Regions from separate parts of the Homo sapiens genome. Here all the other regions are reported to be linked to region 1. The links are microRNA targets in miRTarBase. Many come from high-throughput screens and were not tested one by one. Region 1 holds a microRNA gene; each other region holds the end of a gene's coding sequence.
Evidence for each region. The annotated mature microRNA hsa-miR-4708-3p reads AGCAAGGCGGCAUCUCUCUGAU and lies in region 1 at 2,688-2,709, shown strand. An mRNA with a match to its seed (bases 2 to 7 or 8) in the 3' UTR can be bound and repressed. Matches are read on the target gene's strand: a 7mer-m8 pairs with bases 2 to 8, a 7mer-A1 pairs with bases 2 to 7 and ends in A, and an 8mer does both.

Region 2: the mRNA of PSD is a reported target of hsa-miR-4708-3p. Seed matches in the 3' UTR shown: 7mer-m8 at 2,797-2,803.
Region 3: the mRNA of ATG7 is a reported target of hsa-miR-4708-3p. Seed matches in the 3' UTR shown: 7mer-m8 at 934-940 and 8mer at 2,905-2,912.

Annotation. Positions count from the first base shown.
Region 1 is chr14:65,333,766-65,337,831 of GRCh38, reverse strand. MIR4708 (microRNA 4708) reads left to right here and starts at 2,649; the gene lies at 2,649-2,715. RefSeq lists enhancers at 1,401-1,550, 1,611-1,710.
Region 2 is chr10:102,399,867-102,403,932 of GRCh38, forward strand. It overlaps PSD (pleckstrin and Sec7 domain containing), which reads right to left. Exons shown (of 17, transcript NM_002779.5): 16 at 3,976-4,066; 17 at 2,753-3,564. The coding sequence ends at 3,334. It overlaps NFKB2 (nuclear factor kappa B subunit 2), which reads left to right. Exons shown (of 23, transcript NM_001322934.2): 15 at 214-328; 16 at 412-625; 17 at 789-958; 18 at 1,081-1,183; 19 at 1,314-1,465; 20 at 1,583-1,652; 21 at 1,879-2,051; 22 at 2,182-2,293; 23 at 2,386-2,658. The coding sequence ends at 2,510. Among named protein-coding and RNA genes, the nearest start is that of NFKB2, 6.2 kb to the left of the region's middle. RefSeq lists an enhancer at 1,009-1,705 and a silencer at 3,946-4,066.
Region 3 is chr3:11,554,131-11,558,196 of GRCh38, forward strand. It overlaps ATG7 (autophagy related 7), which reads left to right. Exons shown (of 21, transcript NM_001349232.2): 21 at 681-3,535. The coding sequence ends at 713. VGLL4 (vestigial like family member 4) reads right to left here. Exons shown (of 5, transcript NM_001128219.3): 5 at 1,939-4,066. Among named protein-coding and RNA genes, the nearest start is that of VGLL4, 88 kb to the right of the region's middle.

The DNA.
Region 1 (4,066 bases):
AGACTCTGTCTCAAAAAAAAAAAAAAAAAATTCAGAAGTTGTGCAGTTCCAGGGTTGGGTAATTCCATAGCTCAGCAATGTTCTCAAGGAACCATGCTTGTCCACCTTTTCTCTCTGCCACTCTGCAGCTGTTGCCTTTACCTTCCTCTTTATGTTTGCAAGATGGCAATAGCAGTTCAAGCTCTATGTCCTTAACAACATCTCAAGGCCAGAGTACCTTGCTTCCTTTTGAAGACTTAGAGATTTTCCCAGACGTCCCTTCTGCAGTTTCCTTTTATGTTCCATTGTCCAGAACTATAGCATATGCCTTATTTATTTTATTTTATTTTATTTTATTTATTTTGAGACAGGGTCTCACTCTGTGGTCCAGGCTAGAGTGCAGTGGCTCAATCATGGCTCACTGCAGTGTCAAACACCTGAGCTCAAGCAATTCTCCCACCTCAGCCTCCTGAGTAGTTGGGACTAAAGGTACGCACCACCGTGCCCTGCTAATTTTATTTTTTATTTTTGTAGAGAGGAGGGCTCACTATATTGTCCAGGCTGGTCTCAAACTCCTGGACTCAAGCAATCCTCTCATCTTGGCTTCTCAAAGTATGGGAATTACAGGTATGAGCCACCATGCCCAGGCCAGTACATTCCCATTCTTAAACCAGCCCATTTCTAAACCAGTTACTGGCAAGAGTAGAAAATTTTCATGATTGGCCTAAAGAATCCAGATTCACCTTCCTTGGGCTGGCTGAGTCCCGCATCCCAGAGCTCCTGGTTGATATAACTGAAAGAAGTGGAACTAGGGTAGGAGGCTGCACTCCAGGAGATAAAATGGTCTCAAAATAAGCCCTTGAGACTTTTTATAAGTCACAAAATCCTACTAGTTTTTCAAAGTGCAGCTCAAATCTTGGGTCTTTCATTAATCTTTCCCTTATTATCTTAACCAGAAGCAGCCCATCCCTGCTATAAATTTAAAACCTTGAGTATCGGCCAAAAACACTGGAATCATTCCTGATTTCTCTCTTTATGTCATAAATCATAACCCTATATCTCATCTATCTTGTCTACTCTACCTTCATTATATATCAGAATCTAATCTCATCTCACCACCCTTAGTCTCTTCTCTCTGGTCCAAGCCACCATCATCTTCATCTCATCCCGGATTATTGCAGCACCCTTCTCACTGGCCTCACACTTCTCCTTGTGCACTCTTGGAGTCCATGCTCAGAGTGATCCTTCCAAGGTGTGAGTCCAATCATGTCACTGCTCTACTCAAAGCCCTCCAATGGCTTCAAAACAAAATCTAAAGTCCTTACCACCACTTGCAGGGTCCTCAGTGATCCACTCTGTCACCTCTCTCATGTCCTCTCCTGCCCACAGTCTCCTGCTCACTACTTTCCAGCTACACTGGCCTGCTTGTTCTTAGAACTCACCAAGCACACTCCTTCCTGAGAGCCTTCGTGCTTGCTGCTCGCCTTGCTTAGAAAATTCTTCACAGACTCAGATGACTCACTCCCTCCTTCTTCAGATTTTGACTCAAATGTCTCCTTACCAGAGAGGTCTTCTCTGATCTCCCATCTAAAAAACCACATTCTCTTAACCATGTCACTCTACCCTCCTTAATCTGCTTCATTTTCCTTCAAAGTACTTCCCAGAAGCTGGTGTATTATACATATTTATTTGCTGACACTCATCTTGGCCTCTCAAAGTATGTCTTGTCTCATTAGAACATAAGATCTAGGGGGTGGGGGAATAGGGGAGGGATAGCATTAGGAGAAATACCTAATGTAGATGACGGGTTGATGGGTGCAGCAAACCACCATGGCATGTATATACCTATGTAACAAAGCTGCATGTTGTGCACATTTATTCCAGAACCTAAAAATATATATATACATATATACACATATATACGTGTGTTCCTTATACATATATATATATAAGGAACATAAGATCCATAAAGCCAGGGGTTTTATCTGTTTTGCTCCCTGTTTTTTGAGACAGCCAAGTGTAAAGGGGTCCCCTGAGAAACTCCGACTGGCCTGCGCACTGGGAGAACAGGGTGGAGCTGCAGAAGTTCACACCCTTTGCAGCAGGAAGGAGCCTGGCCTCTCCTGATCCAGGGTAGTACATGGGATTCAATCAGTGAGGCAGGAAAAACCAGCAAGCAGGACTCTCACTTTGCTGAGAGTCCCTGTTTCCATTTATTTTCCTTTTTGCCCAATAAGTTCCATTCTTCTCACCCTTCAAAGTGTCTGCAAGCCTAATCTCTCATGGCTGTGTGACAAGAATCCGGCTTTTAGTTGAACTAAGGAGAAAGTCCTATAACACTTTAGCCTCAGAGCTTACAACAAAACATAATTAGTGCTCCATATATATTTGTTCAATACTTATGTATTCCCTTAATGTTTGTTATCTGTTGGGCATGGTCTCTAGCTGCTATCTTTACACACATCCTGTCTCTTCAACGGGAACATACGATTCTTAAAGGCCAGAGCTGAGTCTTAAAGCTCAAGGCCTTAACATAAAGAGGCCACTCCAAAGTGTATGTTGTTGACATTTGGAGGGAGGATACATTGGGGCAGTAACAGCTGTTGTTATGTTACCTACCCGCTCTTGGCAGGGCCCTGAGAAGCTGAGGTATGAGACACAACAGCATATTTAGGAGAGAGATGCCGCCTTGCTCCTTGAACAGGAGGAGCAAGGCGGCATCTCTCTGATACTAAAAGGAGAATACGGGAGCACCTTTCTTACCTACATTTCCCCTGGAACTAGTCTTTCCACTTGCAAGTTTGTTTACAATTCCACGTTCTTTGCAACTGAATGGGGCCTCACCCTCATTAATTGGTGGCAAAGGTCACTCCTTAACAGATGCTAAACAGAAGCAGAGCAAAGTTAAGGGTGGCTAAGGTCACACAGAGTCGTTGCTCAAATTTAGGAAGGAAACCCACCTAGTGTGAGGTGGGGCCCCAGGAGGGGCATCTGAGCCCCAAGAGAGCAGCTCTCTTTAGCCCCTGCTCTAGTTTCTTTGCAGTTCTCCTAAAGAAGTTCACCAGCAAGGCCATTTACCAGACACCAGGGAATCAGGCCACTTTCAAATGTTGATAGCATTACGCTTGCCAGAGGAGAAAGGGACAAGTGAGGAGACTGAAGACAGTGCTTTCAAGAAAAAGAAGAAAAAGATATTGAATGTGCACTCGCTAAGCCAAAAAAGCAAATGCCAGGAAGAACCGTGAGCCTTGTTTGAAGCCAAGTCTGCGCAGAAGAGTCCCAGGTGTAGGGAAGGAGGAGCTGAGGTGGTCTGAGGACGCACAGCAAATGCCCTGGGGGGTGGGGCGGGAGGAGAGAACATATTTTAAGCAACCTTAAAAGACTCGTTTTAGCATTCCGCAGGAAATGAAAAGCAGATGTGTTGGTTTGGAACTTGTTTACATATTTGGCCTCTGAGAAGCTTCCAGGACAGTTAGGACTGGAGAGAAGGGGTATTTTAGGCAAATGCTATAGTCTCCACTTGGAGAGAGTGGGGCCCTTCATTGGCTCACCTGCTTCCTGAGAAGCAAGCATTTAGGCTGAAAGACCATCATTGTCCCTAAGACAGGTCTGGCTAGAATAAACCAGGATTTGATATACAGAACTGGTCTCCTTGTACCTTCTTACAGAAACTAAGGGTTGTTGCACCTCCTCTCTTGCTTTCAAGTCACACCCACTGGGCAGAGAAGTGAAATCAGAGGCCTGGACATTGGGAGGATGATGGGATGGTTCACACCAAAGGTCCTGAGATTTGCAGAAGGCTTGTTAGAATACAGATTACTGGGTCTCACCAGCTCAGCCGAGCTAAGATGAGGCCAGTGGCTACACACTGGAATCATCTGGAGATTAAAATAGACTGATAGCTGAGCCCTGTTCCCACAGATTCTGATATTAATTGGTCTGGGGTGTGACTTAGGCATTTTTTAAAAATTATTTTTAATATATAATAGAGAGGGGGTCTTACCATGTTGCCTAGCTGGTCTCAAACTCCTGGCCTCAAGCAGTCCTCCTGACTCAGCCTCCCAAAGAGCTGGGATTATAGGCGTGA
Region 2 (4,066 bases), not on the chromosome of region 1:
AAACTTCAGTTTGGTCGACCGTGCAAGGGGTACAGTCATAGCACTTACCTACCTCAAAAGGTGCTGCGAAACGTTAAGTGCAGGCACAGCGATGCCCTGGGCCACGTGCTGGGTTCCATGGGCCCCAGCGAGGGAGACTATGAGGGCGGTGGGGCCTTGAAAGCGAAGGATGCTCTGAGTGGCTGGGCCAGACTCTCGCTCCCCAACCCCCAGACCACTGCACCTAGCCATCATCCACGGGCAGACCAGTGTCATTGAGCAGATAGTCTATGTCATCCACCACGCCCAGGACCTCGGCGTTGTCAACCTCACCAACCACCTGCACCAGGTGCGGGGGCGCCTACTGGGGAGGTGGGAGGGGTTGGAAGGCAAGTGGGTCTCGGGCCTGGCTCACCCTGCTTTCATCCCCAGACGCCCCTGCACCTGGCGGTGATCACGGGGCAGACGAGTGTGGTGAGCTTTCTGCTGCGGGTAGGTGCAGACCCAGCTCTGCTGGATCGGCATGGAGACTCAGCCATGCATCTGGCGCTGCGGGCAGGCGCTGGTGCTCCTGAGCTGCTGCGTGCACTGCTTCAGAGTGGAGCTCCTGCTGTGCCCCAGCTGTTGCATATGCCTGACTTTGAGGGTGAGCTCCCCATCTCACCTGACTAAGGGGGCAGGCGGGGACCAGGGAGGGTATCTGGCCAGTGCCCAGAATGGACTATGAGGTGTCGAGATTGAATGGTCAGGGCTGGTCCAGGGGCTGCCTTAAGGGTCACAGCTGCAGGTTGAGCATCCTGCATCCTTAGGACTGTATCCAGTACACCTGGCAGTCCGAGCCCGAAGCCCTGAGTGCCTGGATCTGCTGGTGGACAGTGGGGCTGAAGTGGAGGCCACAGAGCGGCAGGGGGGACGAACAGCCTTGCATCTAGCCACAGAGATGGAGGAGCTGGGGTTGGTCACCCATCTGGTCACCAAGGTGGGACTGAGGATTGTGGAAGGAGTGGGGCCAAGGGTGGTGGAGGGGCCAAAGATGGTGAAGGGGGGGGCTGGCCAAGGGGACCATGCTGTGGTGTCAACTCTCGCTGCTCGCACCCCCAGCTCCGGGCCAACGTGAACGCTCGCACCTTTGCGGGAAACACACCCCTGCACCTGGCAGCTGGACTGGGGTACCCGACCCTCACCCGCCTCCTTCTGAAGGCTGGTCAGTCTCACCCTCAGGGGCACTTGAACAGGGTGGGGGGAAGGGAGAGAGGTGCCTCCCAGTCCCCCGACTTTGCAGTCCTTAATGTAGGCCCCCACCATACCGCCCCATGACGGCCTCCCTCTCCCAGGTGCTGACATCCATGCTGAAAACGAGGAGCCCCTGTGCCCACTGCCTTCACCCCCTACCTCTGATAGCGACTCGGACTCTGAAGGGCCTGAGAAGGACACCCGAAGCAGCTTCCGGGGCCACACGCCTCTTGACCTCACTTGCAGCACCAAGGTGAGGCCAGCCCGGGACTAGAAGTGCTCTGAGTGACGGGGTCCAGAGTATCTGGACTTAAAGACACAGGCTTAAGGACGAGGTGGGAGGTAGTCAGAACTGCGGCTGTCTCCCCAGGTGAAGACCTTGCTGCTAAATGCTGCTCAGAACACCATGGAGCCACCCCTGACCCCGCCCAGCCCAGCAGGTGAGAAGCATCAGGCATCCCCAGCCCGACTCCTCTGACTCCTCACAGAGGTCTCTTCTCCTTCAGGACCTCTGAAGGAGGCCTCCCTTTCTCTACCCTCAGCCCCGTCCATCACCCCTCATGGTCCTGTCTGTCGCTTACCTTGGGAGAAAGGCAGTGTTCAGGTGTCCATGTCCCCACCCAACTCTGGAGGTAAATGACATGTCTGTATGTGTGTCCCCCTAAGGGCCGGGACTGTCACTTGGTGATACAGCTCTGCAGAACCTGGAGCAGCTGCTAGACGGGCCAGAAGCCCAGGGCAGCTGGGCAGAGCTGGCAGAGCGTCTGGGGCTGCGCAGCCTGGTAGACACGTACCGACAGACAACCTCACCCAGTGGCAGCCTCCTGCGCAGCTACGAGGTGGGTTGGCCTGTGCCCTGCCCCCTCCCCAGCCTCCTTTCCCGATCTGAGTCCAGGTGCCTCCTTGGCCCCAGGGCTCCCGAGCACATGCCCTAACCATGACTCAGACCTCATTCCTCTGTCTTCTCAGCTGGCTGGCGGGGACCTGGCAGGTCTACTGGAGGCCCTGTCTGACATGGGCCTAGAGGAGGGAGTGAGGCTGCTGAGGGGTCCAGAAACCCGAGACAAGCTGCCCAGCACAGGTAAAGGGGCCTCCCTGGAAGGTGGATCTGGACCTGGAGGGCCGGAGGCCTGAGGCTTTGACTATCCCATTCCTGTCCCCATTTACCCCCAGCAGAGGTGAAGGAAGACAGTGCGTACGGGAGCCAGTCAGTGGAGCAGGAGGCAGAGAAGCTGGGCCCACCCCCTGAGCCACCAGGAGGGCTCTGCCACGGGCACCCCCAGCCTCAGGTGCACTGACCTGCTGCCTGCCCCCAGCCCCCTTCCCGGACCCCCTGTACAGCGTCCCCACCTATTTCAAATCTTATTTAACACCCCACACCCACCCCTCAGTTGGGACAAATAAAGGATTCTCATGGGAAGGGGAGGACCCCTCCTTCCCAACTTATGGCAGCCCCTGATGTGACTCTTGTCCCTGGAACCAGCTACCCACCCTGCCCACATGCCAGGCATGGTGAGAAGAGAAGGAGGAGGCCCAGCCAGCAAGTCCAGAGCAGTTTTAATGGGGGTGGAGGCTGTACAAAGGGCAAGGCCCACTGAAGCGGGGGAAAGCCAGGCCGTGCTGCCCCCGGCCCAGGTATGGGGCCTTGGCATGGACGCCCTTCCTCCACCTCCAGCAAGAGAAAGAGTAAGCCCTTGGGGAGGAAGGAGGGGAAACCAGCTCAGCCCCAAATCCTGGTCTCTGTCCAAGCCAGGCCCCAGGACAGAGGGGGACTGATGGTGTCAGGGTGGGGGTGGTCTCAGCAGAAAGCAGAAACGGCATCAGGCCTCTCCCACACAAAAAAAAAGCATCAAAAGTTCAGGGGCGCTAGCCCCTCCCGCCCCCGCCCACCCTGTACGAAAAAGTGCAAAACATTATCACAAAAAGGGGCTCTCGGAGGTGCCCCTAGCCTAGGCTCCTGAGGCCCAGGCCCCAGCCCTGCCCTGCCCCGGACACCGCGTCCGGCGCGGTCGGGCCCTAGGCCGGGAGGCCCTCGTGGGTGGCCCGAGGCCGGCCCGGGCTCAGGCAGGGCCATGTCATCCTTCAGGTGCCCAGCAGGCACTCCCCACCCTAAACCTCATCTCAGGGCTTCCGCCGCCCACTGCCTGCCCCTGGCCGAGGCTCTGAGCTGTGACGCTGAGCCCGGGGCTGGCTGGAGGGTTTGGGCTGCAGGGAGGGACTGGAGTGAGAAGGAGGGAGTCCATCCTCTGTGCTCCCGGCCTGGGCCAGTGCTGCCTCCACTGCATCCAGCTCCTCACTGCCTGCCTTCAGCTTGACCCGAAGCAGCGCTGCATAGGTGCTGTAGCGGGATTTCTGAGGCAGAGGGGCAGGGGCTGTGAGAGCCTCTTCTCTGCCTTCTGCCCACCCCACCATCTGGACCAGGGAGGGCCGCCAGCAGGGCAGAAGATGGCAGGTGCCCACCCAGGACTGTGAGATGGTCCCATGCGGGCTGGTGCCCCCTCTGGGCTCTCCTGGGACCATCATCTATAACCTAATGTGTCTTGAGCCTTTACTAGAGCTGGGGAAATGGCACGCTTGAGACATGCCTCACCTCGAGACCCCAGTGGATGTCAAATGTTATCCTTGTTGCACAGAGGAGGAAACTGAGGCTTAGGTTAAGCAACCTGCCCAAGGACCTCCGGCCGGTTCCACTGTTAGAGTTCATGCCCTTCACCCTAGTATGGGCCTGCGTGTGTGGACAGAGGGGCAGACAGGGAGGCTCACCTCAAACTCCAGGTAGGCCTCCTTCTGCCGCTGCTCTTCAGCCTCCTTGCCCCGGCCCTTCTTGCCCAGCTGGGCGGCCCGGTGCTCCCGC
Region 3 (4,066 bases), not on the chromosome of region 1:
CTCAGTTCTCCTCACAGCCACGTTGGGGCCTCCTGCTCCCCAGGTTCACTGCGAGGCTCAGACTCGGAGGACACGCATTGAGGGACTGTGGCAGGATCTGGCTGTCTCCACTGTCTTTGCTCCAGGCCACCTCCACCCTGGCTGGTGGGGAGGGCTTGCTCTTGAGCCAGCTCTCTAGTGTGAGTTGGGAGTGTGGGCAGCTGGACTACAGTTAGAGGGAACATGGAGCAGGTGCCCAGGGTGCAGCCTCCCAAGGCAGCACGTGCCCATGCCAGAATTCCTGCCCTCAGGGAGCTTGCCTTCCAGAGGGCAGGTGGACCACAAGGAGAACAAGCTGGCTTGGGGTGGGGGTGAGTGCTGCAGAAGCCAGGATGAGCAGAGGCTGGCTGGGTCAGGGACGGTCCCCCGAGGTGGACATGCAGGAGGTGAGCAGAGGCACATTCCCCAGTGCAAATCCCAGCCCTCCCCTGTTGGTTCCACCAGGTGGTTCACACACTAGTGACGCCTTGGCAAGTCTGAGATTTGGTTTCCTTGTACAGAAATGGGGTGACAGTCCCTCAGAAACAAGGGAGTGGTTCTGCAGGTGGGAGCTGCCATGACTGCTGCGGTTTTGAAGCATCTGTGTGCCCCCCACCGGGCAGTGGGACATCTCGGCTGAGCCTCTCCCCTTCTCCATGCAGATCTGGGACATGAGCGATGATGAGACCATCTGAGATGGCCCCGCTGTGGGGCTGACTTCTCCCCGGCCGCCTGCTGAGGAGCTCTCCATCGCCAGAGCAGGACTGCTGACCCCAGGCCTGGTGATTCTGGGCCCCTCCTCCATACCCCGAGGTCTGGGATTCCCCCCTCTGCTGCCCAGGAGTGGCCAGTGTTCGGCGTTGCTCGGGATTCAAGATACCACCAGTTCAGAGCTAAATAATAACCTTGGCCTTGGCCTTGCTATTGACCTGGGACTTGGTCCTCCATGCAGTTTTTATTTCTTGTCACAGTGACTGATAGCCATCCCCCAGGATCCTTTCCCCTTGGCCCTGAGGGGGTGACCCAACACAGACCAAATGGGGAAATGAGCAACCAGCTCCTGCCCAGAGCCACTGCGGGAGGTGGCACCCTCATCCCCGGAATGTGCTGCCCACCGCACCGCAGGCTCCTCCTGTGGGGGCCCTGGGCATGGGTGAGGGTGGGACCCCGTGAGCGCACTGCACCCTGGCCCTGGTGGAGCGGGAGGAGGAGGAGAGCCGAGCTGGGTACGAGACTAAAGGGCCCACATGACCCAGTGACGCCAGATTTCCACCAAGGACTGAGTGAGCTGCTCAGACATGGCTTTCTGCCTCCCAGCCTGTCCTCCACTGTGGGCATAGCATCTGTGCCTGCCTGCCTGCTTGAGGGAGAGGAGTTTCTGCTGCTGCCTTGAGCTGGGGGGAAGAGCCCAGGGGCAGATCCTGGCAGCTGCCTGGATGGGGCTCCTCCCTGCCCTTATGAGCAGGCCAGGCCCAGAAAGGCCGAGCCTGGGCTGCCTTCCTGCCCCAGCCGAGGGAGGGGTCAGACGGCTCTACCATGGGTAACTCAGGCAAGAGCTGGTTTTCCTCTTTATTCTGGGTGTGTGCAGCTGTGAGGCCCCAACCCAGGAGAGGCCATGGCCTAGGTACCTGTGACCACCCTGCCCCCGTGTAGAGGGCATCGTCTTTCCTGCTATTTTATTCTTTCAGCTTTTGTCTTAGGCCCAGAATCAAAGTGAAAATTGAGTCGAGCTGACCCTTACAACAGTAGGATTTAGTAGGGTAGATTTCAAATGAGGCTTCGCTTCTCCCAAAGTAGCCAGTCCAAGTTCCAGTGGCTGTCGTTCAGCTCATGGGAGCTTCATGGGGACACAGCCGGCACAGGTGCAGGGCCCGAGTCCGCCCACCCAGCCTGGCGCTGAAACTGCACACGTACACTATGTGGTTTAAGAGCACTTTATTATTGTTCTTAAGGCTACTTTTAAGTACAAAAAAAGATGGCCTGCCAAACCTTTTTTTTTCTTCTTCCAGGAAAAACAGGCCACAGAGAATGGTATATTACAGATTTACACACATGAAGAGAAGGTCAGAGCGCACTGCAGGCAGCGCGGCTCTGGGAAGAACTTCACGGAGCCCCTTCTTAGAGCAGGGAGGGGGCTTTCTCAGTGAAATGTTTGGTTTTCTGCTGCCTCCTCTGCCCCAGGCCCCCCTCCAGGGTACTGCCTATCCCAGATAGGTCAGTGCACCAGGGACCCGGCCGCCAGCACCGCCGACCCCTCCCAGAGTGACGCCCTTGTTCACTGACAAAGAGACCTGTCCCAGGAGTGTCCTCCACCGAGCCGGTCAGCTGTGGGTGGTTTTCCTGTTACGACGCTCAGTAGCCTGTAGCAATAACAAACTCGTGGCTATGAATGCAGATGCAGTGTTCTCATAGAATAACTGTTCCTGCACTTTTACAGACAAATCTACGACAAAAAAAAAGATCAACTTTTTTTTTCCGAACAACAAAAAAAATGAATGATTACAATAGGAAAGGGAAAAATTAAATAGCTACATATCATTAACAAATTAATGTTCTTCAAAAAATACCTACAAATTTCTCTGTACATTCTTTACGCACAGCGTAACGATGGTCTCAAAATCACCCATATAGAAAAGTGTTCTCAACGATTTTTCCTACAGAAAATATAGGGGCCTGAATGCCAAAGCTTGGAAGCCCAGTACAGTGGGAGTGAAATGTGTGCGGGGCAAGGAGAAGGGCTTTTCTTTCCTCCACTTTTCAAAGGCCTGCAGCCACTCTGTGACTACAAGAGCCAGTCCTCCGACCTTTTCACCCAGTGCCAATTTCCAAAATTCAACAGCTAAAAACTGTAAAACCGGGGGTCATACGGTGTGCAGAGTCCACAAAGCCTTGCAGGTGAGGTGACCACGCCCACGTCACCTGGTCAGGTGCCATCGTCGTGAGCCTCTGGTGGGCCAGGTGGGACACAGCACACCCCAGGGGGAGGGGATAGAAACGCTCATTGACCAAAAAGGAGCAGCTGTGACCTCCACAGCTGTGTCTGTCATGCTTGCTTCATCTAATTTCTAGTTAGTAGCTATTAATATAGCAAATAATAAATGCAGTAATAACAGTATAAAGTCAGAGGAATGTATACTGCCTTGGCCCCAGCGTACGAGGAAGCGTATAAAACACCATATCACAGATTGTCTGTCAGTAATCTGCTGTTCAGCCAAGAGAGTTCAAAGGGAGCAGTTTCTGCATGTAGGGAAGTTGGAAGACACAAACCCCACCTCCCCTGGGAGCTTGTAACAAAGCAGACAGGGATGCAAAAATAAATGATGTCAGCCTGCAGCCAAACTCCAGCATCCCACACCGCAGCTGACCCACTGCTCATCGCGAGGGCCTGCCAGGAGCTGGCCTCCCGCACTACTTGTGAGTAAAGTGAATATCAAATACCAATCTTAGAGTACAACTGTACCAGCAGTAAGTATATCTAGGACTGTAACTGACAAAAATAAACTAATTCTGAAAAGAAGATAGTAAGTATTAAGGTTTTTGTTTACTGTCTATATAATTAATAGAAACCAGCTATTTTTTCTCCATTAAAACATGCATCACGTTTAAAGCACTATGGAATCCTCCAACCTCAGCTCTAGTCTAACAAACTGCAGTGTTCAGAGAAGATAAAATGCCCGTGATTGGTAGAGTCTGCAGTCCAGTTGCAAGCACCTGAAATCTAGAGAGAGAAAGACCTATAACCTGTATGAGACTTCCCCTTCCAAAGCTGTATTGTCTACATTAAAAAAAACAAAAACAGTAACAACAACAAACACACAAATGGTCAGAAATGTCATCCTTAAACCCTTTGTTTTTCAGCAGTTTGCCCTCAGAGTTCTGGCATAACACATAAAGTTGTCAGGCAACTTTAGTCCTCCTCCAATAGTGCAAATCAGACACGACAGTTCTCTTCAAGTATACACACGCACACACATGGACCGAACCAAACACGCCGTGGAAGCTGAGCCACACACACCCCGGTCTCAAGAAGCAAAGGAAAAAGCACAAA